Linked DNA regions of Homo sapiens. The protein of the gene in region 3 purifies or fractionates together with the protein of the main gene of each other region. This does not show direct contact. Each region holds a gene or a part of one and is shown on either strand. Other genes may lie near its edges. The genes, in order: NDUFAF2, TPD52, ACOT13, RAB31, TRNT1, ANXA11 and TNN.

Region 1 (4,071 bases), on a different chromosome or scaffold from region 3:
ATAAAATGTTGGAAACTAATATTTAAATTTCTCCAGAACGCAGAACTCATAAGCAACTGTGTTCTCCAAGTAAATATCTTCACAGGTTCCTCAATTAATGTGGGCAAAATTAAAAGTACAACTTGCTTCTTCCCTTTGGAAAACCCTCTCTCAGAGTATATTACCAACATTCAACTTCTTATACAAGGCATAGATCTGGGAATCATTATTCATTCTTCTCTTTTTGTCATTCACGTATCCACTCAATTTCCATGGCCTGTTGATTCTATTTCTCAGACGTTGTTCAAATCTCTCCACTATCTTTATTCTACTTGGCAACTCTGTGGCCCAGGCTTCCAACAACTCTCTCCCGGACAAGTGTAATCACAACAGTTACCTAACTTGGCTCCCACTCTTGTTCTCAGTTGCAACCCATTCTCCAAGCAGAAAACAAAATGCAATAGCTGTTACCTTATTCTCATCTTCACACCTCTACTCAAGTACACAAGGCTCTTCCTCATCTAGTTTCTGTCTACTTCATCTCTTGTCAATGGTCCCTACCCCAATTCTCCGCTCTAGTCATTCTGAACTTTGTTCAATTCCTGGCCTGTGTCCTCTGCCTTTAATAGGCTGCCTGGCACACTGTAGGAATTCACTAAATATGCAGACTGAATGAATGAACGAGTCCGTGGAGGGCAGTTATTCTTTGGAGTAACTTAAGAGAGAAGGAATACAGTACAACGAAGTATTCTTATTTAGGTTTATAGTGTCTTCACCTGAGCCCGCGGGGGAACCCCCCCCCCACCCCCGGGGAACCCCCCCCACCCCCGCCGCCCCCCGCCTGCAAGTTGTTACCAGTAAATAAAAGGGATCCTATTTTAGCAAGCCACACAGCATTAGAGGGCAAATAATAGTTTGGTGGCAGGAGAGCGATGAGACGGGAAAGTGTGGGGCAAAGCTTACAGTCATTGGTCCAGATTCTAACTGGCCTGTTAGCCAAAAAGTAAGGTTTTCTTTACCTCCGTGTTGACTCTGCTCTCCGAAGGCGAAGAGGGTCCTCCAAACCCGTTTGGCGTGCGGACAAAAACCCCAGCATATCGTGTCCTCACACCGGCTGGAGCACTGGACGTCGCCATGACAGAGCTCAGGGGCGGGACTGGAACAGCAGAGTCTCCCATTGGTCAGTCGGTGATATATCCGGCCAATGGTGAGCGCCGTTACTAGAAGGGCTCCAGGATGGAGGCCGACCTGACTTCTCCGCCTCGGTGGGCTGGGTCGGCGGCTGGAGCATTACCCCTACTGCGGGTCCCGCTGCTGGCAGCGCTGGAAACTGGGTGGACGGCATGGGTTGGTCTCAGGATTTGTTCCGCGCCTTGTGGAGATCGCTGTCAAGGGAAGTGAAGGAGCACGTGGGCACGGACCAATTCGGGAACAAATACTACTACATCCCGCAGTACAAGAACTGGAGAGGTGAGGTGGCGGCGTGGGCAGCGATTGCGTGGTCAGTGATTGCGAGGTCAGTAAAGGAGGGAAAAGTGAGAGCCCCTAGTCAACTAACGCATCATGCGACACTTAGGGTGTCACCGGAGAGAATTTCCCGAGTTCGTTCTCCCCTGTCGACCCCTTCACTCTGGCATCGGAGCCCTACCCGGCCCGGCTCTGGGCGCCTTGGCCCGGCCTCGTGCGTCCGCGGTCCCTACTACCCAGCGCCTTCCCCCGGCGTGCCCCGGGCTGCTTGCGCTGTTAAGGCGCACCACCACTTTCCTCCCAGCCACGCCTGTAGAGGAGCCTCAGTTTTAGCCCTGGACTGGCGACGGAGGCAGGGAAAAGTCCACGGAAATCTTTCACCAAAGGGGCTAGAAGGGCCAGGGGAGGGGTTTTTCGTACGCTGTTCCCCGCCTTGTGACCCAGAGCTGAGTGGTGTAATTGAAGAGGAGTATCTTCAGCGCCTCGGCTGTCTTCTTTCTTGGTGTTTACCCTTTTCGGTGGCACCCTGGCTCCGGCGCTGGCCCCATGCGCCTTCCTTACTACCAAGACTTGTCAGAAGTAGGTCCATATCCCCACAAGGCTCGCTGATTCCTTTCTCGGGAGTTGACATTCCAAGACCCCGTTGAGCTCAATTTAAGAAACGTGGCAATAATCATGGTGTTACTGTGTAGGATTCGTGCCAAGTAGTTGAGCGGGTTGTTTGGGGAGTAAGGAGGCGTTGCTGTCCATTGAAATCACACTGTGTAGCCGCCGTCGTAACCTCTTCTGTGTTGTTCCATCGCCGCATGCAGAAAATGTCAGGTTTTGGGCGAAGAGGCGTGGGTTAGAATCTCAGCTTTGACACCTGATAGCTCGGGAATCACGGAAAAAGTACTTGTCCTCTCCAAGTCTCAACATCCTCACTTGAAAGTTAGAGATAATATAAGATCAGCAATGTTGAGAAGCACTAAGACCTTTCCAAGATTATGTGCCATTCATTTCCCACACATATAAAATGTATTCTGTGATTTATCACTCAATTAATTTATTTTTGCCTGGCCTTTTTCTGTAACTTATTTTAATATTTAGACTTGTTTCCCTAATGAGCTCCTCTGTCAGGCAGGGAATATGTCTCACAAAAAAAGAAAAAAGCCTGCAAAGAACATAGCATGGTGTTAAGTATTTCTTGACAGGTTGCAAGCAGAGAGATGTTTCTTTTCCATAAGTTGTCAGTAAAATTAAAAATATGCAAACTGTCAGACTGAGTTTTTTTAAATTGAAATATAATTTACATACAGTAACATTCACCCTTTATGGTGTACAGTTTTATTGTTTTTGACAAATGAGTAGAGTAACCTCACTGGATTCAAGTAATAGAATAATTCCATCACCATCAGAATTTCCTCCAACTCCTTAGTAGTTCATTCCCACACCCTTTGGCAACTACTGATGTGTTTTATGGGCCTATAGTTTTGTCTTTTCTAGAATATCATATAAATGGAATTATACAGGATTTAGACTTTTGAGTCTGGCTTGCTTCACATAGCATAATGTAGCTGAGATTCATCCATGTGTCAGTAGTTGTTCCTTTTTATTGCTCAGTAGTATTCCATTGTATGGGTTTGCCAGTTTATCTGTTCACAAGCTGAAGGACATTAGGATGTTTCCAGTTTCTGTGATTGTGACAAAAGCTCTACAAACATTCCCATACAGGATTTGTGTGAACGTAAGTTTTCATATCTCTTGGGTAAATATCTAGTAGTGGGATTACTAAGTTGTGTGATCAATGTGTGTTTAACTTTATGAGAAACTACCAAACTGTTTTTCAAAGTGGCTGTACCATTTTGTATTCCTGCCAGCAATGCATTAAAATTCTAGTTGTTTCCACACCCTCACCAGCACTTAGTATTATCTGATTTTTGGGTGTGTTTTTATTTTTATTTTAGCCATTTTGATAGGTATATAGTGGTATCTCATTGTGATTTTAAGTTTCATTTTCCTAATGCCTGAGGATGTTGACAGTCTTTTCATGTGCTTATTTACTATCTACAGATCTTCGGTGAAGTATTGTTCAAACCTTTTGCCCATTAAAAAATCCATTTATGGCTGGGTCCGGTGGCTCATGCCTGTAATCCCACCACTTTGGGAGGCCGAGGTGGGTGGATCACCTGAGATCAGGAGTTCCAGACCAGCCTGGCCAACATGGTGAAACCCCATCTCTACTAAAAATACAAAAATTAGCTGGGCATGGTGGCACGCGCCTGTAATCCCAGCTAGTCGGGAGGCTAAGGCAGGAAAATCACTTGAACCTGGGAGGCGGATGTTGCAGTGAGCCGAGATCACACCACTGCACTCCAGCCTGGGTGACAGAGTGAGACTCCACCTCAAAAAAAAAAAAAAAAAACAAGCCCAAAAAACAACAAACAAATATATTTATACCAGTTTTTGTATCATTCATTTATATAGAGATACAATACCATTAAAGTTTCAAATTAACAGTCATGTCTATTCTACAATAACATGAATATTTTATTTTTACATATTCTCACTAATTTGTATATTTTCTTACATAATTGTAATTGCATTTTGAGAGTTTTATTGAAGTATAATTGACAAAAAAAATTG
Region 2 (3,500 bases), on a different chromosome or scaffold from region 3:
CCATGAGTGATTGCTTAAGAAAATAATCTGCATCCATAGGAACAGAGATGAAGACTACTATATCATCCTTCCTGCTTATACTCTAAAGACTTTCCTCCACCTTAGTTTCCTCCAACAACTAATCAGATAATCAAAGAGTCTGCCTGGGAAAGAGAAAGGTTTCCTCAACATCACAAAGTCTCTTTCTATAAGGCATGGTTTGAGCTAACATCTTTTTAATGTGCTTTTTTTAGCTTAATATTCTTTTCCCTTTTTCAAACCATGAAGTTGCCTTGTGTACATAAAGAATATAACAAGTGTAAAGAAAGAATAAAATCATAAAAACTATAAGCTAGTAAAACAAGTATTAAAAAGTGCAGAGTAGTGGCAGATTTTACCTTATGTATATTTTACCACAACAACAAAAAAAAAGGTAGAGTAACCAATAGAAGATGGAAGACTAACATCAGGAGGCAGTACATATGCAGTCTGTTACAATTGTGTAATGAAACCCAGGTGAAGAATTCCAACATCCTTACAAAAGTACCAAAGAAACAAAAGCATCAAAACAAACAAAGTCAGACATTAAAAGGGAGGAATTTTGCATGCCATGGTAAAGCTGCTTCTTTTTACCAAAGAAAAAAGTAAAAAAGAAATGTCAAAATCATTTCCATATCCCTTGAACCACAGTGTCAAATACTTCTTTTAATTTATCAACTACCCATGGTATACAAGAAACCCTCCCTTGAAATTAGGAATGCACTAGAGAAAAAGATACTCTAAACGCAAGAAAATTATGTACTGGACAAACACGATCATCCAACGTAGCATGGTAATCTAATCTCAGCACACTTTTCTTATACAACTGCTGGACTGCAGTGATGGTTCAAACTCTCCTTACCTAAAGGAATGTGAAAAGGCTTGCAATCTGTAAGAAGCCAGAGTAAGCATTAAAAAAGAAAGAAGTTCTGATAAATCTAAAACAATTAAATAACCTAAGTTTTAAACATATAATGTTTTCCCTGGGCTCTAAACTGCTACACAATTCAGTCAGCATAGAGAAAATGAACACCTAATAGATACATACATAATTGTCAAAAGAGTTCAAGAAAGCTATATTTATTACATTATGCTTAGACAATGACAGTCTAAATATAATGAGCGAGGAATTTGTTCTTTTGGTGTAAAGTATAACACATAAATTGACCAAATCTATTCAACCAAGAAATTCTGGTTGTAAGATATACACTTTCCCCACAAATGCAAAACACGAAGCCATGCAATCTGAGCATTTTTTTTTAAACACAAATCTTGCATGCCAACAGAAGCACAGCTGACTTAAACCACATTTGTCATTTTCATCACTATCCTAATCCACATGAGTGAAGGGGGGGCACAAAAGCACTGTGAAGTGGTTTTATAAAAATGGCAAGGAAAACTCTGCAGACTAATCTAAATGAAAAAAAAAAAAAGCAACAACTCAAAATCAAGATTTTGGCCTAAGCATGAACATAGTTACAGCTTACCAGTTAGAATAAAACAGTGCACAAATGAGCATGTTGTAATCACACCATGATATAAAATGTCACATATAGAACGTGAAGCCAAATCTGAATCGAAGCGTGCACTTCAGTGCTCCTGTAGTCATCCTTAGTAACACACCAGGCTCTGCCCACAATCACAAATTTGCAACCAAAGACATACTTACCCTGCATGATCATGAAGAACTAAAAAGACAAAGAAGTTCACAACCAGAATTTTTCAACAACCTTAAATGATCATCAGATGATCATTTGATGTTAGAATGCTAGGCCTAGAAGACCTTAGATGAGCCTTCCAGGTACTGGTTTGAAGGAGTGCCCTCCCTCACTCTAACAGGAGTAGCTAGCATCAACTAGAGCCAAGGTCAGGAAACAGATGCAACAACAATAACATTTTAATTTGCGTCAGCTACTTAATGAGCAAGGAAAAATGAGGACATACTTTACATCTTCCAGCTTTTTGGTGATGACTGAGCCAACAGACGAAAAAGCAGCTGAGGCCTTCTGTCCAGCCTGGGATAAGGTTTCAGATGTCTTCTTGTAACTATATTAAATTATAAACACACAGAGCAAAAGAAGGGTCAGCTCATCTTTTCTAATATCAATTGTTTCAAGTGCAGTGGTCACCACCTGCTGGAGAACTCTCAAAAAGAGAAAACATTTTTCAGAACTTCTAAAATCCTTCATAACCAGCAGAGCGGCATCACCACATCTTCGTATGCTCAACCCTAAGCTCAGGCACAATCTTCTGCAGTGCCCTAGTCCAGCCAGAAAGACAGAGTCCTATAAAGGCAGGGCCAAAGAAGTCAAGGTAAGGGCTAAAAATAATCATCAAACCAAGATGAAAATAAGCAAAGGCCTGAAAGAACTCATACCTATTGTTCTTTTCTCACATAATCCAAACAAAACAAAAATGAAATCAAATTCCTCAGATGCCTTTGTCAACTTGATTTCCTAAAAAAGGGCCAGAAGCAATTAGTAGCTGGCGTAAGTAGGACCCATTTGTATTTTATTATCCAAATACATTTTATGGGCATACTTTCTAAAAATTTTTGCATGTCTTTAGAGAGCTACCAAATACGGACATGATGGACTTTCAACAAAGTATGTAAAATATGCAATGCTTAAAATTATTCTAGTGTGGTATCTGCTATCACGCAAAGCTATAATTTACCACCTCCTTCCCAGCTACCTGGAGATTAGAGAAGAGAAAAGCAAAAACAAAAAAATGATGACAACAACAACAACAAAAAACAAAATAATATCGTACCTACCAAAACAATTCCCACATTATGGGAAAGAATGCTCAGGCATTTTTACTTACCCTGTCAAGATCAAATACCAATAAAAAAACATGGTTCATGGTAATACTGTTGAAAAAATAGTTTCCTGTATGTTTTCCCACTGCCAACTTAGATGGGTAGAAAATGGACCAAAAGACTGGGGACTCAAGTACTGTCATGTTAAATGCAGTTGGCCTCACTTCTGATAGTTAAATTGTAAAACAACTTCTGTGCTCACCAGCTCTGCAGATGGCTCTCAATACAGAAGACAGAGCAGTTCGGTTTCTGCTGCTAGAAGCTTGCTCCTCCTTGTGCCGGGAAACAAAACTGCATTATGATAATGCTATATCATAGCATGTGTGGTCAAAAAGACAAAAAGCCTAAGGGATTGACCTCTGCCAAGAGCATATATCTGAGACTACGACCTGAGAATCTTTTGATACCTACACAACAAGGTTAAAAAAATACATTAATAATAATAATAAAGACTGGCTCCAGACCTGAGTTTGAATTCCCACTCCACATTTTGAGAGGTTTGTGACATGAAAACTTAATTTGTCTGAGCCTGTTTCCTTATCCAGGGTTATCTTGCCACCCATTCTTACTGGGTTATTCTGAGTACTAAAGGACAAAATGTACATATTTGTGGCAAGTCAATACATAACACTTATGGGATTTGAATTTTATTTCTCCAACT
Region 3 (4,084 bases):
TTCAGAAGAAAATAACAGCAACCTATTTACACGCATAAGCCACTTTCATACCTGCCTACTGATGTATGGACTTCAGAATAACGTGGCCTATGTATATTTTCCAGGATTGTTCTTTTGTTTGTTGTTTTTCACCCTTCCTCCCCCTATTTTCTCTTCACAAGACATGGGAGTTCACAGCCTTCTAAAAATTAGCTTTCCTAATAACTTGGGACTTACCTGTCTAGGAATAAACCATCCTAGCATGAGCGATCAGATGAAATCTGGGACCAAAGACTCATTTTTCTTCTAAAATGCTTTCTCCAAAAAAAAATTTTTTTTAAAAAAAAGAAAAGGGGGCAAATGTAAAGGAAAATATCTTGGGCCCCCAAATCACTAAGTTAAAAGGAAAATTCAAGCTAGGAACTACTTAAGACAAACTTGCCTCCCATTCTATTCAAAGTCATCCCTCTGCTCATTGAGATAAATGTGTATCTGACTGCCTCCTTAGGAAAGGTAAATCAGAAACTCAAAAGAATGCAACCATTTGTCTCCCACCTACCCGTGACCTGGAAGCCCCCTTCCCGCTTCAAGTTGTCCCGCCTTTCCGAACCCAACCAGTGTTCATTTTACATATATTGATTGATGTCTTATATGTCCCTAAAACGCATAAAACCAAGCTGTGCTCTGACCACCTTGGGCACATGTTGTCAGGACCTCCTGAGGCTGTGTCACTGCGTGCGCATCCTCAACCTTGGCAAAATAAACTTTCTAAATTAACTGATACCTGTCTCAAATTTTTGGGGTTCACAAGGTTTAGTTATAAATGCTTCTTATGGAGCATGATTTTCTTACAAGCGAGGCAGGAGAATCGGATCTGGAGGCAGGGAACCTAGGGCTGTTTCACGCTGACTTCCTAGAACTAAATTGAAAGTAAAACCCTAACTTCCCACACCAAGTAACAAAAGAACCAGAGGCTTCTCCCTTTCCAAACCCCCACCTTTTCTGTGTGGCAGATGGGAAATTGAAAGTACCTCTGATTGGTTGCAAAAAGCAAAATTACGCTAAGAAGTAAGTTATCCCTTAAAAAAAATTATTCTTTCTGCAACCAATCAGATCTTCCCATAGGAGTGTAACTATGTAACTTCACCATCTGATTGCACGCCACGTCTTCGTTTGCATATAAGGGCAACTTTGTAACTTCACTTTAGCCTTTCATTGGTTGCTTTTCACAGCCAATTGTGGGTCACCACTTCATTTACATGAGATGAGTACCAAGTGGCCAATAGGAGACTTCAATGGGGTATTAGGGCCCCTGAGCTGCTGCTCCACACCCCAAACACAGGAGTGTCCTTTCATTTTCAGTAAATCCCTGCTTTTGGCGGGGCATGGTGGCTCATGCCTGTAATCCCAGCACTTCGGGAGGCCAAGGCAGGTGGATCACCTGAGGTCAGCAGTTTGAGACCAGCCTGACCAACATGATGAAACCCTGTCTCTAATAAAAATAAAGAATTAGCCAGGCTTGGTGGCGCATGCCTGTAATCATCCCAGCTACTTGGAAGGCTGAGGCATGAGAATCACTTGAACCCAGGAGGCGGAGGTTGCAGTGAGCCGAGATCGTGTCACTGCACTCCCGCATGGGCAACAGAGCAAGACTCCATCTCAAAACAACAACAACAACAAACACCTTCAAGGTCTGGCGTGGCGGCTCACACCAGTAATCCCAGCACTTTGGGAGGCGGAGGCAGGCGTTTCACCTGAGGTCGGGAGTTCGAGAGCAGCCTGACCAACATGGAGAAACCCTGTCTCTACTAAAAGTACAATATTAGCTGGGCATGGTGGCGCATGCCTGTAATCCCAGCCACTCGGGAGGCTGAGTGAGGCAGGAGAATTGTTTGAACCAGGGAGGTGGAGGTTGCAGTGAGCCGAGATCGCGCCATTGCACTCCAGCCTAGGCAACAAGGGCGAAACCTCATCCTAAAAAAACAAAAACAAACAAACACCTTCGGGCTTTGTGAGTGCTGGTCTCAGAAAAGCACTCAGTCTTCCTCCAAGGGCTAACTTACTTCTTCAGGAGTTGGGTGCCTTTGAGAAATTTCCCAAACCACTACAGAGGAACAACTTCTCCCTTCGTTCACCACTCTACCAAGCACTTGGCTTTTGTACCTTATTGCAATTATTTATCTTCTAATCTTCTAGAGCCTAGAGAATTAGACTGTAATGTGCCTTAAATGCAGAGGTTTCTCTTACTCTTCTCTGGAGCAATGCAGACGTTTGTTGGTTGAAGGATCAAACTCCAAAGTCCCTCCCAGCCTTGGAACTGTCTCCACGAGTCATAACCATACTTATCTATGTTTAGATAGAGAACTTACGCGTTCGACCCAGCATATTTAGGGGCTCCATTAAAGTAATAATCATTATTACTAAGGTGAATTTACAGGCGTACTAGAACACAACCTAACAAGAGATAATTATTCAAAGCTCACAACGGCACCAAGCACGGTGCTTTCTTTTCCTTCATTAGAAGCCACGGCTTCTCCCCTACCTTTCCCATACCTTTCCCAAAACTCTCTCAAAATTGCGAGCCTTGGTCATGGCCTTTATCACCTCCCGCAGAGACTGAGTCATGCTGGTCATCGTGGACGGTTTTCCAGCCTTTGGGCTTTGCGCAAGAACGAACTTCGGAAGAGCTGGAAAGTCCAGAAGTTAGTGAAAGAAGGAGGACACAAAGGGCGAAGAGCCCGCACCCTTCTCCGCCCCTAGGAGCGCAAGAGGCCGGGAGTCAGGCGAGCTGGCAGCCCCGGTGGTCCGCGATTTGCTCACTGACTTTCCTCGCACCCTTGTGACGAAGCGCGCATGCGCGCTTCGCACCCACCGCCCCGGCGGCTCCCTTGCGGCGCAGCTGCACCAGTTTTCCGAGAGCAGCGCATTTCCCCGCCGGGCGGTTGATGCGGGAGCGCCATGACACAGGCGCCTGCGCAGAGCCGCGCGTTGGCCTCCTGTTCCGCTTAAAGGGGCGGTGCAGAGGCGGCAGGAAGATGGAGTTGGGGAGTTGCCTGGAGGGCGGGAGGGAGGCGGCGGAGGAAGAGGGCGAGCCTGAGGTGAAAAAGCGGCGACTTCTGTGTGTGGAGTTTGCCTCGGTCGCAAGCTGCGATGCCGCAGTGGCTCAGTGCTTCCTGGCCGAGAACGACTGGGAGATGGAAGTACGCTTTCGCTGTCCTCGCTTCCGGCTCCATTACCTAGGTCGGTGGAGCGCACAAACCTCATCCCTTGTGCCTTTGTTTTTCAGAGGGCTCTGAACTCCTACTTCGAGCCTCCGGTGGAGGAGAGCGCCTTGGAACGCCGACCTGAAACCATCTCTGAGCCCAAGACCTAGTAAGTGATGAGGGGAGCGGGAGCCAGTCCGCACGGAGGCAGTTTGATACCAGGTAGCCCTGCGCGTCCTGGGACCTGCCGTGGAGCTGGGCGGACGATGCTGAGGCAGATCTCCAAGCTGCGTAGCCAGAGGAGCAGGGCTTGCGTTGCTGCTGCTGCGCGGAGTTGCGCCCCAGCAGCGGATCTAACACTGCACCAGACTGTCGCTTCGAACGTGATTTGGGGTCCAGGGAGGAAAAGATGGAAATGTAATGTTTAACTCAAATGAAAGGAAATAAGTAAGCGAGAGGTTTGAAACAAATGAACGAAGGCTAAACCTTCTATCGAAAAATGGCAACTTGGAAGTCTCCTTGCTTCCTGTATTGTTTATTTATTCTAGGCCCTAGGCTGACCGGCCAGAATAACAGGTTTGTTGTTGTTGTTATTTTTTTTTAATGCACACCTACTCCTGTTATTTCAGTGCCCCTCTCCAGTTCCTGCACTTAAAAAGTGTAGCTGCCTTACAAGGCCCTCTACTATTTGGCTCCATAACTTAGAACCTGCCTTTCCAGGTTCCAGGCCTATCAAACTTTTACTTTTTTCCAACGGGTCATTTTCTCCTGTCTTTGAAACTTCGTAAAGATCTTTATTACCTGTGCCTGGAATTTTTTTCTTTTCCCTTCCTTGCTAATATTTGTCTTAAAGCCCCAAGCTGAGACATGATTTATCTCTAGGAAGCTTTTCCTGATGTCCT
Region 4 (3,500 bases), on a different chromosome or scaffold from region 3:
GCTAGAACCCGGGAGGCAGAGGTTGCAGTGAGCTAAGATTGCAAAACTGCACTCCTGCCTGGAAGACAGAGTGAGACTTTATCTCAAAAAAAAAAAAAAAAAAAAAAAAAATAGTATCCTGGAGGGGTTTTGAAAGTCAATAAGAAAAAGATGGCTTAATAGAAAAATGGACAAAGATATATATAAAGGTAAATCACAGAAGACATATACATTGCCAACAAATATTTTAAAACATGTTCAATTAGAATCGGAAGAACACCAATAAAAATAAGGAGACACTTATAAATTATTAAATTGTAAAAAGATTTGTGCTGTTCAGTGTTGGTGTGGGTTTGGGAAGGGAGGCACACATACTCTACATGGAATGTGCTGAATATCTTCTTTCAAAGCAACTGTTGGTAATATAATCAAAAGTTGAAATGTGTGTCCCATTTGACCCAGCAATTCCACTTAGAGGAATATATACTGGAGTGACCATCACACGCAGGAAGACACATCCCTGCGCTGTTTATGGGAGTAAATGGGAATTGACTCATGGTATAATGTTATGAACTGAATGTTTGTGTCTCCCCTAAAATCCATGTATTGAAACCCTAACTCCCAACGTGGCGGTATTAGGAGGTGGGGCCCTTAGGAGGTAATTAGGGTTAGATGAGGTCACAGATGGGATTAGTCCCTTATAAGGAGAGAAGGAGACCAGATCTCCCTTCTCTCCCTGCCCTGCCCCTATGTGAGATACAGCAAGAAGGCGAGTATCTGCATACCAGAAAGGGGGCCCTCACAGGCACTGAATCTGCCAGCACCTTGATCTTGGACTTCCCAGCTCCCAAATGGTAAGAAATCAACGTGTGTTGTTTAAGCCACCCAGTCTATGTTATTTTGTGCACAGATTAATACATATATGTATGTAATGATATTCTATAGCCATTAAAATGATGATTTTTATTTATAGGAAAAGAGATCTTTGACATACTGTTAGATGAGAAATAGTCTCAAAACAGCACATATAGCATATAATTTATCATTTATTATGTGGTTAATTTATCATTATATGATAATATAATGTAGGGTAAAATGTATGTGGGAGTATGTCTCTGTGAGCAGGAATAACACGAGGTTCCTCTAAATCTTAACAGGTGGGATTTCCAGCGATTTTTACATTTTCCTTACAAGCATCTGTATAGCATAAATTTTTACAATGAGTTTTAAATAATATGGTTTTTAAGTTTTGAACAAAGCAGCTGTTTTTATTGGGCAGTGGGGAGAGAGCAGGGAGGAAGGAGAAGTGGATCCTGAAGCTTTTCTGGCAAGCGACAAAACCCTAACTTATTATTTTCTTTCCCACGATACTCATCATTGGATCAATACTTGCCAAACTGAAATGATGGTATTTGGAAATCTGAGTCCCCAGGTTTCCCTGTTACTGCACTGAGGAATGCTGGTGAGGCACTCACAATAGTGTGGAAAGGAAGTGGGCCACCCTCCCTGCCTCCAGTCCCTCCATGCAGGTCTCCATCCTGAAGAGAAAGGACTCTGGAGCCTCTGCGGGTTTCAGAAAAGGGAGAAGGTTGGACGAAGCTCAGGGTGAACCAAGGAGTTCACAGCTGAACTGTGCGGTGGCCGAAGATGCTGAAGGGCCGGCGCCACCCACTGCCCCCATTCCAGAACGCACTTGGGGACAGCGACATTTGCCATGCATGCCTTTCCGTACTCACTGACGGCCCAACACTGTGTTTGGCATAATTATTAGGCATCCATAAATCTATTTTTAACCCACCATTTGGCAATCTACTCCTTACACTTAAAAAACAAAATCAGAATTCCTGCCCAAAGGAAGGAAAAAGCAATAATTTTTTTTAAACATTCCTACTTTTCAAAGGGTAAGGACCGCAGATTAAGTATCCTTTTACCCCAATTATACAAAATGCCCATTTTTTTCAAAATAGCCTCCATATAAGAGTGGTTCATGTAAACGCACAAAGTAGCAGTCAATACAAACTTTATTTCCCAAAAGTAAAGATATTCATGGACTCAAGCTCAAAGAGGAGCAAACTGCGGGTGTCTTCTAAGACAGAGAGAGTTCACTTTAGGCTAAAACACCATGAACTGAATCTAAAACGGTCACTGGCATGGAGGTCTCATGAATTATTGAAGCGATCTTGGTATATAATGCATTACTCATTCTTTCCTTCCTCCAAATGGAATCGCTTTGAAATAAATCTCTGTTGGTGAAGCCACTTAAATGACTTTATTGCTGGGGACTTGAGGGTTTTAATGAGTTAGAAGTTCACGTCTCAGTTCCAAAACCCAATAATGCATTGACCAAAGGGTGATCTTGGTGGAGGACAAAAAGATAAATCACTTCTAGTCTACAATGTTTATGCTTTTCCCCCTTACAAATAGAAAGCAAAAGCACCACAATCAGCCTCAGTCCTCAACATGACATAATTCAATTCCTGTGGGGTCAGAAATAAGACTGATGGAATGCTCACATAAAAAGATTCTTCTGGAAATAAAGTTCACAGTCACAAGAGGCTGATAAAGCTTTATTTTTACATCTTACCTTGAAAGGTTATTTGAAAATTAGCACAACAGATGCCAATTCAAAATCCCTTCTTCCCTGACTACCCAGCAAAACATCTAGAAGACCAAATTAAAATGTTGAGAAATTTTTCAGATGTCATTCAATTATTTAGAAACGGCACAGGGAACTGTGAAAACCCAGTGTGTCTCCTCAAAAGAAATAGCTGTTTATGTCCTTAGTGTGTGTGATTATTTGTTTTCTAATTGCTGGAGGTCCCTGTGGCAGGGGAGACGGGAACGGCCTTCTTCAGGCTCTTGGAGCTTCTCCGGCTGCTCAGCTTTCGCAGATGGACATTAACCCTGCCCGCAGCTGGTAGAAAATAAACGAGCATGACCTTTCTGGAAAGCAGCTGGACAATGTGTTTCAAGAATCTTGCAAATGTTCAGATACTTTGATTTGACAATTCCACCTCTTAAGGGAATAATCAGAGATGGTTACAAAGTAACCAGAATTCCTTTGAAAATTATCAATGATGCTGAAAAACTGTAAGCAATCTCAATGTCTAACAATTAAAGAATGGACACATAAATTTTGGCTTAGCCATATGATGGAATATCCAGCAGCAATTAGACTTAGGTGTTTGTAAAATATTAAATGGCACATGAGGCAAGACAGCCTAGTGTGGTATTTTCCTGAGGGTCTTCTGCAGAACACCAGGCCACGTGGAGGTGGCCAGGAAAAAAGGTTTCCTGGCCAAATAAGTTTGAGAAACACCACATGCTTCCCTGGAGGTTTACAAAGCATAATTAGTGCATTAAAGGCTCTGAAAATTTTCTACAGTAAAGAAACCTATTTATTTTGGTTTTAGTTCAGAATTCCCATTCATTTTTAAAATCTTTTTTTCAAGTAGTATTTATTAACATCTAGGGACCTCGCGTGATCAAGAATCACCTTTGGGGAAGTGAAGAGAACTGGA
Region 5 (4,211 bases), on a different chromosome or scaffold from region 3:
GCACCAGTCCTGTAATGAATGGCAAGTACTTAGCACAGCATACAGAAAAGCCATGCTTTTTACTGCAGTCAACTTCTTGCCTTTTCCAGTGATTTAGCTATATTTTTGGATCAGCCATATGTAAGCCTTTCTCTTTTAATATTCCTTTCTCTTTTTTTGAGACAGGGTCTCACTCTGTTGCCCAGGCTAGAGTGGCATGATCATAGCTCACTGCAGCCTCAAACTCCTGGGCTCAAACAATCCTCCTACCTTGGCCTCCCCAAGAGATTACAGGCTGGGTACACCCAGCCAAGCCTTTCTTCCAACAATGAAAACGTGCACATTGGGCACCGTGGCTCACACCTGTAATCCCAGCATTTTGGGAGGCCAAGGAGTGAGCCCAGGAGTTTTGAGACCAGCCTGGGCAACACAAAGAGACCCTCTACTTACGTTTTTTAATAAAAATAATTAAAACAACAATGAAAATATCCGAATGCTGGCTTAAAAAGTTAACCCTCTACTTCTCCATTTATATAGGTTTCCAATCAAGAAAAGGTATCCTAATCTCTCACCTGTCAGACTCTTCAGTCCTTCTGTGAAAAGTGACTGGAATTCGGGAGACTGCAACTTCATTGTGAATAGATACTGCTTCGGAAGGCACAGCCTACTCCACCTACGGTTCAGCACTGGCCTGTGCCAATGATACAGGCACCTCAGCATCTGGAGAGGCAGTCACCAACTACACATCTACAAGGCAAATACACAGGCATACCAATGAAATTAAAAGTGAAGGTAAGTGAAGGAAAACAAAGGGGGACACATTTCAAGTTTATCAACTCAGAAATTCATCTCTTGTTCAGATGAAAAAACTGAAAACGGTGTCAGTTTGAGGGATTACGACTAGGTCTATGTATCTACCTGGTTTTGTTCTCCAGAAGCACTTACTGTGGCAGGCGGGGTCTCACTAGCGCAGGCCTCCATAACTGTTTCAGTACTGACTGACTGGTTGAGTTACATATTAAAAGCTGAAAGAGCCAGCCAGTGCCCTTAAACAAGGCTAGAATGTAACAAAAGCCCCCCAAGAGTTTTGCCTAGGCCTTTCCTGGACCTTGAAGCATGATAAAATAACAAAGGAATTCTTTTTTTTTTTTTTTTTTTTTTTGAGATGGAGTCTCGCTCTGTCGCTCAGGCGGGAGTGCAGTGGCGCGATCTCAGCTCACTGCAACCCCTGCCTCCTGGGTTCAAGAGATTCTCCTGCCTCAGCATCCCAAGTAGCAGGGATTACAGGCGCACACCACCACATCCGGCTAATTTTTTATACTTCTGGGTAGAGACGGGGTTTTACCACGTTGGCCAGACTGCTCTCGAACTCCTGACCTCAAGTGATCTGCCCGCCTCAGCCTCCCAAAGTGCTGGGATTACAGGCGTGAGCCACTGAGCCCGGCCACAAAGGAATTCTTAACAGGACCCGTTTAGAATTAAACAAGTTTTACTGGGGATCTGAGGAAACTCCCCAGGCCTCCACGAACAAGTTTATTAGGGGTCTGAGGGAACTCCCCAAACCTCCATGATTTAGCAGGAGAGAATATAAGGGTAATCACCCCAGCACCTGGACCCATTTAGATTAAGTAAATTTACTCAGGCTCCAGAGGAAGGTCTTCAGGACTCAGATCTTATGGGTAAGAAGTTAATCACTTGTATCTTTAGATCAATGCACACTTACACATAAACATACAACTTACAAGGTATATAAGCTCTGGAAAGCTCTGTAATTCTGAGTCGGTCTGGGATATTTTCCACGCCTTCGCCCCGTACCTGGTTACAGAAATAAACTCCTTTCTTTCCTAGTTTATCTGCATCTCATTATTGGGCAGCGAGAATAAGCAGCCCAACCCTCGGTTTGGTGGTTTGGTCGGGGAGCATTACCACGACACTCGCATGCCACATGGTACTGTGATGACACTCTCCCCAGAGCAGGGCTTCAGGCAGTATGAGAGGGATGCGGGGTTCTAGAAACTCTAACCGAGTTTCTGGTCTCCAAAACTTGTCATGGTCACAGGTGGGTATCACCCTACTTCCCCACCTGCACTCGAGGATTCACGACCCTGGGATAGCTCCTAGACATTGTATTTTCCCATGAATTTAGTTTTGCTGCCCCCATTTTCCTGATTCTTTTCCTGCCATCTTGCAATCTCCTCTGATTTCTGGCACACCGCGGCCTTCCCTTCTACATATCACATCCTCGTTCTCCCCATACGGGGGTCCTGCCCATAAGGAGGCCGCAGCAGCTCTCGAGTGACCCCGGTGTAAACCTGCAGAGAAAAACCATTCCATTCCACGGAAGCGGGTGGAGGAGCCGCGCTTCCCGGCAGGCCACGTGGGGCGGAAAGACCCACTCAGTTTCCTCGCACCTCCGCCTCGACTTAGGAAAACGCTCTGGGGAACCCCAGCCCTGAAAAGGCGCGTCTCACCCCCCACGCCGGGTGCTGGCGACAAGGCCCAGTGAAAAAGCGTCTCGGGGCCGTCCGCGCGGAGGGGAAAGTGCTGAGGGAAGCCAAGGAATCCGCGCCTGCGGTCGCCGGAAACGTGGCGGGGACACGACCTCCGCGTCGGGGCTATTTTGCCCACTGCTGAGGAGGCCTCTCGCCACGTCCCGCTCCCGTCTTCCTCGAGGACCGGGCGCGGTGGCGCCTCTGGCCCACAGCAGGAAGGAAGGGGCAGCAACTCACGCCACCAACTCTGCCCCTCTGAGCGGCGCGCGCCCGCTTACCGGCCCCGCTGTTGCCGCAGCCGCCACCGCCGCCACGCGCACTTCCGGGCTGGTGAACGCGGTGACGTCACCAACGCACATGGGTTGGCGGCGAATGGGAAGTCGCGGCGGGGCGAGGGCGAGTGCGGGGGCGGGGCCCGGACCGAAGGGCTTCCGCCTCCCGTCGCTCCTCCCCACCGTGAGGCGAACCTCAGCCGGTTTCCCAGCCCCGCCGAGGCCCGCTGGGGCGAAGCGGAGCCCCGGGGGGCCCTGAGGAAACCGGCGCGGGTTCGTTTAATTACGCCCTTCTCGCCAGACCTCTGGCTGGCCCTGAGCTGCTCAGAAGCCCATCTGCGCGGCATGCCCGTGCGATCTGAGACAACTGGCAGCTGTCTTCCTTTGCAAAACGAGACTGTTAATAAAACCTACCCCAGGGTAGGACGGACTGTTCGGTAAATGTTAACTTATCCGTGTTTGACTATTCTCTCCTCTAATCTCTGCATAGGGTTAAGTCCACAGTTGACAGAGTCACGCGCATTCGAAATCTAAGCCCGCCGGTCCTATGAACTTACTGGGCATATTTTATTTTCTTACCTGGTTTGTGTAACCATTGGCCTCCTTGGCCCGGAGGCTTCCCATCTGTAACGTGGAGAACTTAGATTTGATCCAGTTCATTAATTCTTTCTAGAGCGGAAAAGAGCAAAGAGAGTGGCAAAGGAGTGGGAATACAGCCGTTGAGCCCTTAAAGTGCGAAAATGTGTAGTTTTTGTTTTGTTTTGTTTTTGAGACGGAGTTTCGCTCTTGTCGCCCAGGCTGGAGTGCGGTGGCGCGATCTGGGCTCGCTGCAACCTCCGCCTTCCGGTTTCAAGCGATGCTCCTGCCTCGGCCTCCCGAGTAGCTGGGATTACAGGTGTCTGCCACCACGCCCGGCTAATTTTTAGTAGAGACGGGGTTTTGCCGTGTTGGCCAACTGGTCTCGAACTCCTGACCTCGTGTTCCCCAGGCCTCGGCCCCCAAAAGTGCCGGGATTACTTTTGCCGGGATTCGGCCACTGCGCCCGGCCGAAAATGTGTAGTCTTTTAAGTGTAACTTTACATCACTTAGCTTTCCCTAAAATTTTCCTAGAAAAATGCTTGTGCATGTTATTTCTGTTCTTTTGCCCTCCCCACATGCCTACCTGTTCTTCCCAAACTTTTCAGCCCCACTCTCTGTAGACTTCCTAAAACGTAAAAAGTAAGATGTGCAATTACCACACCTCTTCAAGGTGTTGAATATCCTGTTTTTGGAAGCACAGGACTGGCTTTCCAAATGGACATTCAGAGGCACAGCATTGATATCATCCGGTGCAAGGATTTTCTGTCTCTCTCTCTCTTTGGGGCAAGGAAAGCCCCAAATCATCCTTTCAGGCTTGTCTGCTATTTCTCACCACCATGACCCTAGACAAACTGGACCAAAGCCTCCATTGCTGTACCCACCTAGAATA
Region 6 (4,204 bases), on a different chromosome or scaffold from region 3:
TTGAACCCGGGAGGCGGAAGTTGCAGTGAGCCGAGATCGCGCCACTGCACTCCAGCCTGGGCGACAGATCGAGACTCCGTCTCAGAAAAAAAAAAAAAAAAAGGAAAATCGAACCAGCAGCTTGTTTGTAACAGCCAAACATAGGCAACAACCTAAATGTCCTTCAGTAAGGAGCTAGGTAATGAAGAATGGTGAAGCGCACGATGGCGCGCAGTGTGCAGTGGATGGGAAGAACCAGGTCTGTTCAGGAGCACTTGTATGGAAAGACCCTCCAAGATATAGTGAGTAAAAAAACATGTTGCAGAAAAGTACTGCAATATCGTTTTGTAAACAATACGTTTATGTAAACACACACACACAGTGTTAAAGAGAGATATTTGGAAGGACACACCTAAGAGTGGGCTGGGGGAGTGGAGGGAAGAGTGAATCTCAATTTTTACTCATTTTTTGAATTTTTTATTTTTAGTTTTTTAGAGACTGGGTCTCACTATGTTGCCCAGGCTAGTCTGGAAGCCCTGTCTTCAAGCCATCCTCCTGTCTTGGCCTTCCAAAGTGCTGAGATTACAGGCGTCAGCCACCACTCATTAAAAAAAAAAATTGTATACCTACCATATATGCATATATTACCTGGGTGACCTTTTAAAAATATGCTTTATTTTTAGAACATCTTTAGATTTACAGAAAAAGTGTGAATACAGGGAATTCTCATAAACCCGGGCTTTTCCTATTATTAACATCTTAAGTCATTTTTATATCTCCGTGGGTTCCTCTTGGCTGTGACAGTGTCCTAGACTTTCCTTGTTTTTGATGACCTTGCTAGTTTTCAGGAGTACTGGTCATGTATATGGCAAGGGCCTCAATTGATTTGTGATGTTTTCCTCATGATTACAGTGGGGTTAGGTGTTCTTGGGAGGAAGACCACAAGCGGTGCATGCAATCAGTATGATTTACCCCTGTCGAGGTCACCTTGACGGCTGGGTGGTTTGTCAGGTTTCTCCACGATAGTCACTGACCGCTCCCTTCCTCACATACTGTGCGTGACCTTCCCCCCTCCACCACCACCGAGTGTTGCTATAAAGGAAATGCGTTTGACCTTTTCAGTGTAAAAAGTTTTCTCGACCTTAAAGAGAGTCACTAACCGACGCACACGGGGCTGGAGAGGACTTAGGAAATGCCCACCCCTGCAGGAGGGCGAATGCGGCTCTGCGCGGCACTGGGCGCCGCAGGGGTTAGGGGCGGCAGAGGGACCTCCGGAGCCCGAGACTTCCTGGAGCAGCTCCGCAGCCGGAAGGCTGCTGCTCCTCGCGGGCCCGCCGTGCCCAGTCCTCATCTTGGGGGCGGGGCCGCGCTCAGGCCCCGCCCCTCCCTTGCACTGCCTCTGGCACCTGGGGCAGCCGCGCCCGCGGAGTTTTCCGCCCGGCGCTGACGGCTGCTGCGCCCGCGGCTCCCCAGTGCCCCGAGTGCCCCGCGGGCCCCGCGAGCGGGAGTGGGACCCAGCCCCTAGGCAGAACCCAGGCGCCGCGCCCGGGACGCCCGCGGAGAGAGCCACTCCCGCCCACGTCCCATTTCGCCCCTCGCGTCCGGAGTCCCCGTGGCCAGGTGAGTGAGGGTCCCGAGCCGGCTGGGGGCCTGGGACCAGGCGGCGGCAGTGCACCGCGGCGCCGCGGGTGAGGCCCGGGGCTGCCTGGCGCCCAGCCCAGCGCGGCCCTGCGGCTTCCTGGTTGCACTACAGGCGTGGGGGTGGGGGGCAGGGGAGGGCGTCGGCGGGTCGCGGGCGGGCCGTGTCGGCCTGGCAGCCCCCTAGATCAGCCTCGGCGTCTGGGGCTGCTCCCTCATGTGTGGTCGGGGTGCACTCGCCGTCCCCCCGGGCTCAGGGGTCGGGGTCTCAGTCTGGGCCTGGGTAGGGCCAGGGGCCGTGACCCTGGGCGCAGGAGGCAACGGGTGGCGGGAGGGGTGCCGGAGGCCCGGCCCCGCAGCCCTGCGGAGCCCTCCAGGGTGCGCGCGCCCTTCTAGGCGAGGCTTGGGGAGATTAAGCAGAGAAGGCTATCTTCAGGAACTTTCCTCCGAAACTGGGAGCACGCACATTCCTGGGAGCTGCTACCATTGCAGTTTATTTGTAAGGAACTCTCCCCAGTGTTTGAGGGAATGCGGGAGCCATCCCAGGTGCTGTGCGTGCCTTCGCCCCTTCCCCAACCTTGATCCCCAGTTTCAGGAAGGGATTCCTGGACTTGTATCTCCCATGGGTGCAGGCCAGGCCCTTAAGACTTAGGTAAAATGGTCTGTTGGTTTAAAGGAGACACGCGAAGTTTGTTACCTAGAGACTTTGGAGGGGAAAAGTTAAGCCAGCCAGTGCTAGCCCAAGCTGGAAACAGTCAGCCCGGGGCATTTCTGTCTCTGCCCTCCAATCCTTGACCTCTCTGTAGAGATTCGGCGTTTGTGGTAGCTCTCCCCTCTGTTCTCTGCGCTGGGCATGGAGTGGAGCTGTGAGGCCGAGCCCCTGCCCTGCCCTGCCCTGCCCTGCCCACGCAACAGGGACTAGGTTTGCAGGGCAGGGCCTGGTATGCTCACCCTTCACTGGCTCTCATTGCTTTCCTCATTCCTTTTATGCGGCAGTCAATTGTTGGGGATTCCAGGGGATTAACAGGGCCCCTTTCCTCAAGGCATTCTTTGTGCTGCAAGGTGTTCCCTGATAAGAGAGGCCAGGTGAGGTGCCAGGGCAGTTTGTTGCCCTGGCATTGGGTGCCCACTACTTCAGGCTCCTGCATACCTTGCTATCTTTTCTTTGACTATTGTCTGTGCTTTGGTTTTTCATCTGTAAAATGGGGGTAATAGTAATCCCTGCCTCACAGGCTTGTGAGATTCAGTGCATTCATTTATTTAATAACAATACAGAGCTCAGGTACGGACCAGTCAGAACAGGTGGTGACTGCTGCACCACACTTGTGTATCCCAGATGGGTGTCACCCACATTAGCCATAAAGTGTGTGAGGCAGGCCTGGGTCATAAATAATCAGGTGTAAGGGTCAATAAATAGTAGCAGTGGAAGGTTCAGCTAAAGTTGAAATGCACTTCTCCTGAACCGTCTTTCTGGCTTAGCTCATGCTAAGCTCATGCTCTCTGTCTTACTGGAATGCCCTCCCTCCCCTGTCTGGCCTAGCATTCTCCACCCTCCTGGGAGCCATCCGGGTGCCTGCTCCCAGCAGGAGGGACGGGATATGCTCTGAGCTCACTCAGCCCTTCTGGCACTGACTCGGTTCTCATCTCTCGCCTTGCATAGTATTTGTGTGGCGGTGTGGCTTATCGCTGCCCTGTCCTCTGACTCTGGAGGGTGGGGGCTGTTTCTGACTTACCTCTTGGTGGCAGCACTCAGGATGGGCCTTGCCTAATGTAGGTGCTCAGAAAATTAGTTGTCGTTAGTTGAACAACAGAGACAGCACAGGGAAGTGGTTTCCCTGTGGTTAAAATATAGGACCTTGAAGGCTGGGTTTGGATAGAGAAACGTGGGGAGGGTGAGATGGAGATGAATTGGGACTAAGAGGTGGGAGTGGAAGCCTCACCTGACGCCTTTATGCATGATACTATAGAAAGGGCCCACCCTGGGTGGATGTGTCTAGAAGGCCAGGATCGATTAGTGATGCCTAGTTCACGTGATTGGGGAGGTGATGTGTGGCTTGGGATGACAGGAGTGGGAGTTGAGACAGAATAGGTTAGTGTGGGTTCTTCTTGGAAATTGTAGAATAGAGAAAAGAAACTGGTGTGGGCAGGAGCTGAATGTGGAACCAAAATGCATGCTGAATGCTGGAACATCAGAGGTCCTGGGACCTTTCTGGTGCACCCCCTCCTTCCTCCTGGATTCACCCCTCTTCTTCTGCTGTCTTTTTTTTTTTTTTTTTTTTTGAGACAGATTTCGCCCTGTCACCCAGGCTGGAGTGCAGTGATGCAATCTTGGCTCACTGCAACCTCCGCTCCCTGGGTTTAAATGATTCTCCTCCCTTGGCCTCCCGAGTAGCTGGGATTACAGGCATGCACCACCATGCCCGGCTAATTTTTGTATTTTTAGTAGAGACGGGGCTTCACCATGTTGGCCAGGCTGGTCTTGAACTCCTGACCTCAGGTGATCTGCCTGCCTCAGTCTCCCAAAGTGCTGGGATTACAGGCATGAGTCACCGTGCCCGGCCTCCTCTCTCTTCTTAGCCACTGTTTT
Region 7 (3,500 bases), on a different chromosome or scaffold from region 3:
TCCTTGAAGATCTAAGCTGCTTTAAGAATGTTCACGAGGAGACAAGAATGTTTAAAGAGTAAGCAGTGATGCTAATCCTTCTAAACATTTTGGTGGCATTTGCTGGTGCACAGGAGATTCTGTTTCTCCAGATCAAGCCTCCACCATCCTCCATCTTGTTCTGTACCCCAGGCTGTGATCTCTGTGAATTGAGTCTGCCTGTTTACCTGACCCTTTGGCTTCCAGGTTCAGCTAGCAGGAATCACCAGCAGATCAGAGGGCAGGAGACAGAATTCTTTGGAGACACGGTGGACTGCCTGCATCCCTCTACCAAAACAACCCTACCAGGCAGCTCTTTTCTACAGCTCTCTCTGGGTCCAAGTACCAACATCTATCCCTTGCCCCTTCAGGCAGGAGAGTATCCTTATTGATGCAGGTCTTAGTGTGTCACCATCCAACCCCTACCCACACCTTTGTGAACAATCTGTTAGTTAAACTTTGAAATTTCATTTACCCCATTTGTGTCCTGTCTTTCCCACGAAGATGAATCTAACTGATACAGGTGGCTTCAGCAGCCTCTCACCCATACCTATCTGAACTTTCTGAATGGCTTTGGGGGTTCAGTAAGAGACTGGGGATTCATGTCTACACTTTGACTGCTTATGAGAAGGTGCAGACCCAAATAATCTCAGGGACAGAGAAGACCCCATGAGCCCCCATCTAGCAGGTCTTCATGGGCTTGGAGAACCCAGTAATCAGGGAGCAAGGAAAGAAGAGAGAGAACTGGGACTCTTCAGAACCTAGGATTGTGGCAGGTGTGTTTTTCAAACCCCTAATCAAGGCAACTGCCTACAGGTGTTTAATGAAAGAAACCATTTAGAATGGGGCCTCTCCTGGGAACCCTGGGGCATCAGGTGGCTTCCTCACCTGTGGTGGCAAGTAGATGCTGTGGGCTGCTAGAAACTTCATTCTTGACGTTACGCAGGGTGACTATGTACTTGGTTCCAGGCAGCAAACCAAGAATCTCATAGCTGTGCTGCTCCTTGGGCACTTGGATCTGCTTCCCAGAGAGCTCCTTCCCCAGGGGGTAGTAGCTGAGGAGGTAGTGATCCACCTGGCTGGAGGGCTCCCAGCTCACCAGCAGAGAATCCTCCGTGTTCTTGAGCAGCTGCAGGCCCTGTGGGGTGACCACTGCAGGCAGAACAGGAACAGGGCAGAGAGGGTGAGCAAGGGAGGCGATCCAGACCCAGTGAGTATTCCCTGAGCACTATAAGGGTGGGTGTGCAGGATGCAGACCTGTGTAAGGCGCCATTCCCGACCCCTAGAAGTTATTATCCGAACGACAGGTAATTAATACTGACCCCCTCACCACACACACACACACACTCACACACAGCCATTAGATCACAAGACCAGTGGTCCTCAAGGTTAGGGCCTCTAACCAGCAGCATCAGCATCACCTGGGAACTTGTTAGAAATGCAAATTCTTAGGCCCCATCGCAGAATCAGAAACTCTGGGGTTGGGACTCAGCAATCTGGCGTAGGCTAAAGGAAGAGACCCCCAAAGATGACAACGTGTAATTGAGGGTTAAATGGTGCATTGGAAAGAAGAGTCCGGCGGCCCGAGGGCACATCTCCGCTCTCACCCTGGGCACAGTCCAGGCCTGTGAAGCCCTCCTCGCAGTAGCACTCGCCCGTGTCACAGAAGCCGTGGCCGCTGCAGTCGCCGGGACAGCGCTTCTCGCTGCAGTCCTCCGACATGAAGTCTTCGTGGCACTGGCACACGCCGCGCACGCACTCGCCGTGTCCGCTGCAGTTCTCAGGGCAGGCCGGGTAGCCGCAGTCGGCACCCACGTAGGGCTCATGGCACAGGCAGCGCCCGTCCACGCAACGCCCGTGGCCGCTGCACGCCCCGGGGCAGGCCAGCCGCTCGCAGGCGGGGCCCTCCCTGCCCTCTTCGCAGTGGCAGCTGCAGGTCTCCAGGGAGAAGGTCCCGTGGCCGCTGCAGTGGCGGCTTAGATCTGGGAGGGAGAGGAGAAACAGTAGGTTGGGTTGAAGGGTTGTGCGTGGGGATCTCCTTCCTCTGAGATCAGCCATGCAAGACCCAGAAATCATTAGCCCCACTCTTAAGGGTCTGGTGATTTCTGGGTCTTGCACGGCTATTTTTTGGAGGATGGTGGAGCTCCACAAGGGAGAAAAGGTGTTGGCCCTTTCCAGCCTGGGCCAGGCTTTCTAATCTGTGACATCTGCAAACGTCTCCTTCTTTCTCTGCCTGAAAAGGCTGCAGGACCCACCCTTCTTTCCTTTCCCTTCCCGTGTGAATTCCCCGGTTCCTTCCTCTCTACCTGGTGGTCATTATTTAGTGCCTTCCTATGGAGGGGCCTTAAATGCTCCACCCTGGCCAGCTGACACTGCAGGGCAGGACTCCTGGGGGGAAAGTGAGATCCAGGGAGGTTGGAGTTTGCTGGAACTAGCAAGGCTGGGACCTTGTGAAATGAGCCCAGATTGAAGTCTGGAAAAAACGGAACTGCAGAAGCTACAAAATAGCCTACTCTCAACTATGGGTACAGTGGAGAAGGGATTTAACCAGGCTCCCCTCTCTGACCCTACACAGCAAGAGGCAGCTGGAGGGCAGACTGGTTAGTGCAGTCTCCTCTGTGGCCCAGCTTCTGCTTTTCAGAACACCTTCTTTCCTTCCTAAAAACGCTTCCAAAGTGGGAGCTCCTCAGAAGCAAGTCCATGCTGGTTATTCATGGCAGTGTCCCTGGTGCCGAGTTCTGTATCTGGATCTGATGGTTAAGGTGCTCTTTACCATAGCAATTCCTTCAGGCATGAAATCCTATGCCAAAGTACTGTTCATTATCATTGGATCAGCCTGGGCAGTTTATGTTTAAAAGTGACGGGGTTGCGTTGGGGGAGAACCTTCATTATTTGTAAAATTAAATTGTAATTATTTTACAATTATAATTGTAATTTTTACTAATAAAATAATTATAATTTACTGATTTGTAAATTCCTCTAAGGGCCAGGAATCTTCTACACATCATCTCTAGTTCTCAGAACTATACTAGCTGATAGAATCATCCCTGTTGGACAGTTGAGGAAACATAAGGGATTTACCCAAAGTCACACAGCTAAAAAGTGGTAGAACTGGGATTTGTAACCTGTCTTGTCTAGCTCCAAGGCCCTATCTTTCCTGTGTATCCCATTGCTTCCTCTCTGAGTAGCGCTTTGATTCACAGGTATGACGGCTCCTGGAAGCATTCCCATCTGGAAGCAATAGGCCAGGAGTCTAGACTCTCTGCAAGAGCTGCTGGTCCCTCCCTGCTCAGCTTCCAGATGCCCCCTGGAGCTAGTACCAGTGAATAAATGAATAAATAGCAGGGATGGGCCCCCTAGAGAAAACCCAGAATGAGAAGTAGGAGCACACCAGAGTCACAAAGTGCTCATGAGGCTAGTGGAAACCCTGGCACATAATAGGTGCTCATCAAATGTTTGTTGAATGAATACCAGGTGGTGAG

Evidence for each region.
Region 1: the proteins of ACOT13 (region 3) and NDUFAF2 fractionate together in Homo sapiens (co-fractionation; one large-scale study listed by BioGRID). This does not show direct contact.
Region 2: the proteins of ACOT13 (region 3) and TPD52 fractionate together in Homo sapiens (co-fractionation; one large-scale study listed by BioGRID). This does not show direct contact.
Region 4: the proteins of ACOT13 (region 3) and RAB31 fractionate together in Homo sapiens (co-fractionation; one large-scale study listed by BioGRID). This does not show direct contact.
Region 5: the proteins of ACOT13 (region 3) and TRNT1 fractionate together in Homo sapiens (co-fractionation; one large-scale study listed by BioGRID). This does not show direct contact.
Region 6: the proteins of ACOT13 (region 3) and ANXA11 fractionate together in Homo sapiens (co-fractionation; one large-scale study listed by BioGRID). This does not show direct contact.
Region 7: the proteins of ACOT13 (region 3) and TNN fractionate together in Homo sapiens (co-fractionation; one large-scale study listed by BioGRID). This does not show direct contact.

What each region holds. Positions count from the first base shown.
Region 1 is NC_000005.10:60,943,934-60,948,004, forward strand, and holds the start of NDUFAF2 (NADH dehydrogenase [ubiquinone] 1 alpha subcomplex assembly factor 2), read left to right. Parts: upstream 1-1,271; 5' UTR 1,272-1,322; coding exon 1,323-1,449; intron 1,450-4,071. Other genes in the region: ERCC8 (DNA excision repair protein ERCC-8), read right to left, coding at 999-1,075. UniProt on the Homo sapiens protein: Acts as a molecular chaperone for mitochondrial complex I assembly. Complex I functions in the transfer of electrons from NADH to the respiratory chain. The immediate electron acceptor for the enzyme is believed to be ubiquinone.
Region 2 is NC_000008.11:80,049,565-80,053,064, forward strand, and holds part of TPD52 (tumor protein D52), read right to left. Parts: intron 3,112-3,500; exon of another isoform or gene 3,042-3,111; intron 2,065-3,041; coding exon 1,963-2,064; intron 1,707-1,962; exon of another isoform or gene 1,688-1,706; intron 908-1,687; coding exon 881-907; intron 1-880. Other genes in the region: TPD52-MRPS28 protein, read right to left, coding at 1,963-2,064.
Region 3 is NC_000006.12:24,665,793-24,669,876, reverse strand, and holds the start of ACOT13 (acyl-coenzyme A thioesterase 13), read right to left. Parts: upstream 2,801-4,084; 5' UTR 2,614-2,800; coding exon 2,533-2,613; intron 761-2,532; exon of another isoform or gene 1-760. Other genes in the region: TDP2 (tyrosyl-DNA phosphodiesterase 2), read left to right, coding at 3,015-3,179, 3,266-3,351. UniProt on the Homo sapiens protein: Catalyzes the hydrolysis of acyl-CoAs into free fatty acids and coenzyme A (CoASH), regulating their respective intracellular levels. Has acyl-CoA thioesterase activity towards medium (C12) and long-chain (C18) fatty acyl-CoA substrates.
Region 4 is NC_000018.10:9,809,301-9,812,800, reverse strand, and holds part of RAB31 (ras-related protein Rab-31), read right to left. Parts: intron 1-3,500. UniProt on the Homo sapiens protein: The small GTPases Rab are key regulators of intracellular membrane trafficking, from the formation of transport vesicles to their fusion with membranes.
Region 5 is NC_000003.12:3,125,529-3,129,739, reverse strand, and holds the start of TRNT1 (CCA tRNA nucleotidyltransferase 1, mitochondrial), read right to left. Parts: upstream 2,801-4,211; 5' UTR 2,750-2,800; exon of another isoform or gene 1,722-2,749; intron 727-1,721; 5' UTR 700-726; coding exon 552-699; intron 1-551. UniProt on the Homo sapiens protein: Nucleotidyltransferase that catalyzes the addition and repair of the essential 3'-terminal CCA sequence in tRNAs, which is necessary for the attachment of amino acids to the 3' terminus of tRNA molecules, using CTP and ATP as substrates. tRNA 3'-terminal CCA addition is required both for tRNA processing and repair.
Region 6 is NC_000010.11:80,202,738-80,206,941, reverse strand, and holds the start of ANXA11 (annexin A11), read left to right. Parts: upstream 1-1,404; 5' UTR 1,405-1,599; intron 1,600-2,450; exon of another isoform or gene 2,451-2,703; intron 2,704-4,204. UniProt on the Homo sapiens protein: Binds specifically to calcyclin in a calcium-dependent manner. Required for midbody formation and completion of the terminal phase of cytokinesis.
Region 7 is NC_000001.11:175,077,833-175,081,332, reverse strand, and holds part of TNN (tenascin-N precursor), read right to left. Parts: intron 2,001-3,500; coding exon 1,626-2,000; intron 1,171-1,625; coding exon 907-1,170; intron 1-906. UniProt on the Homo sapiens protein: Extracellular matrix protein that seems to be a ligand for ITGA8:ITGB1, ITGAV:ITGB1 and ITGA4:ITGB1. Involved in neurite outgrowth and cell migration in hippocampal explants.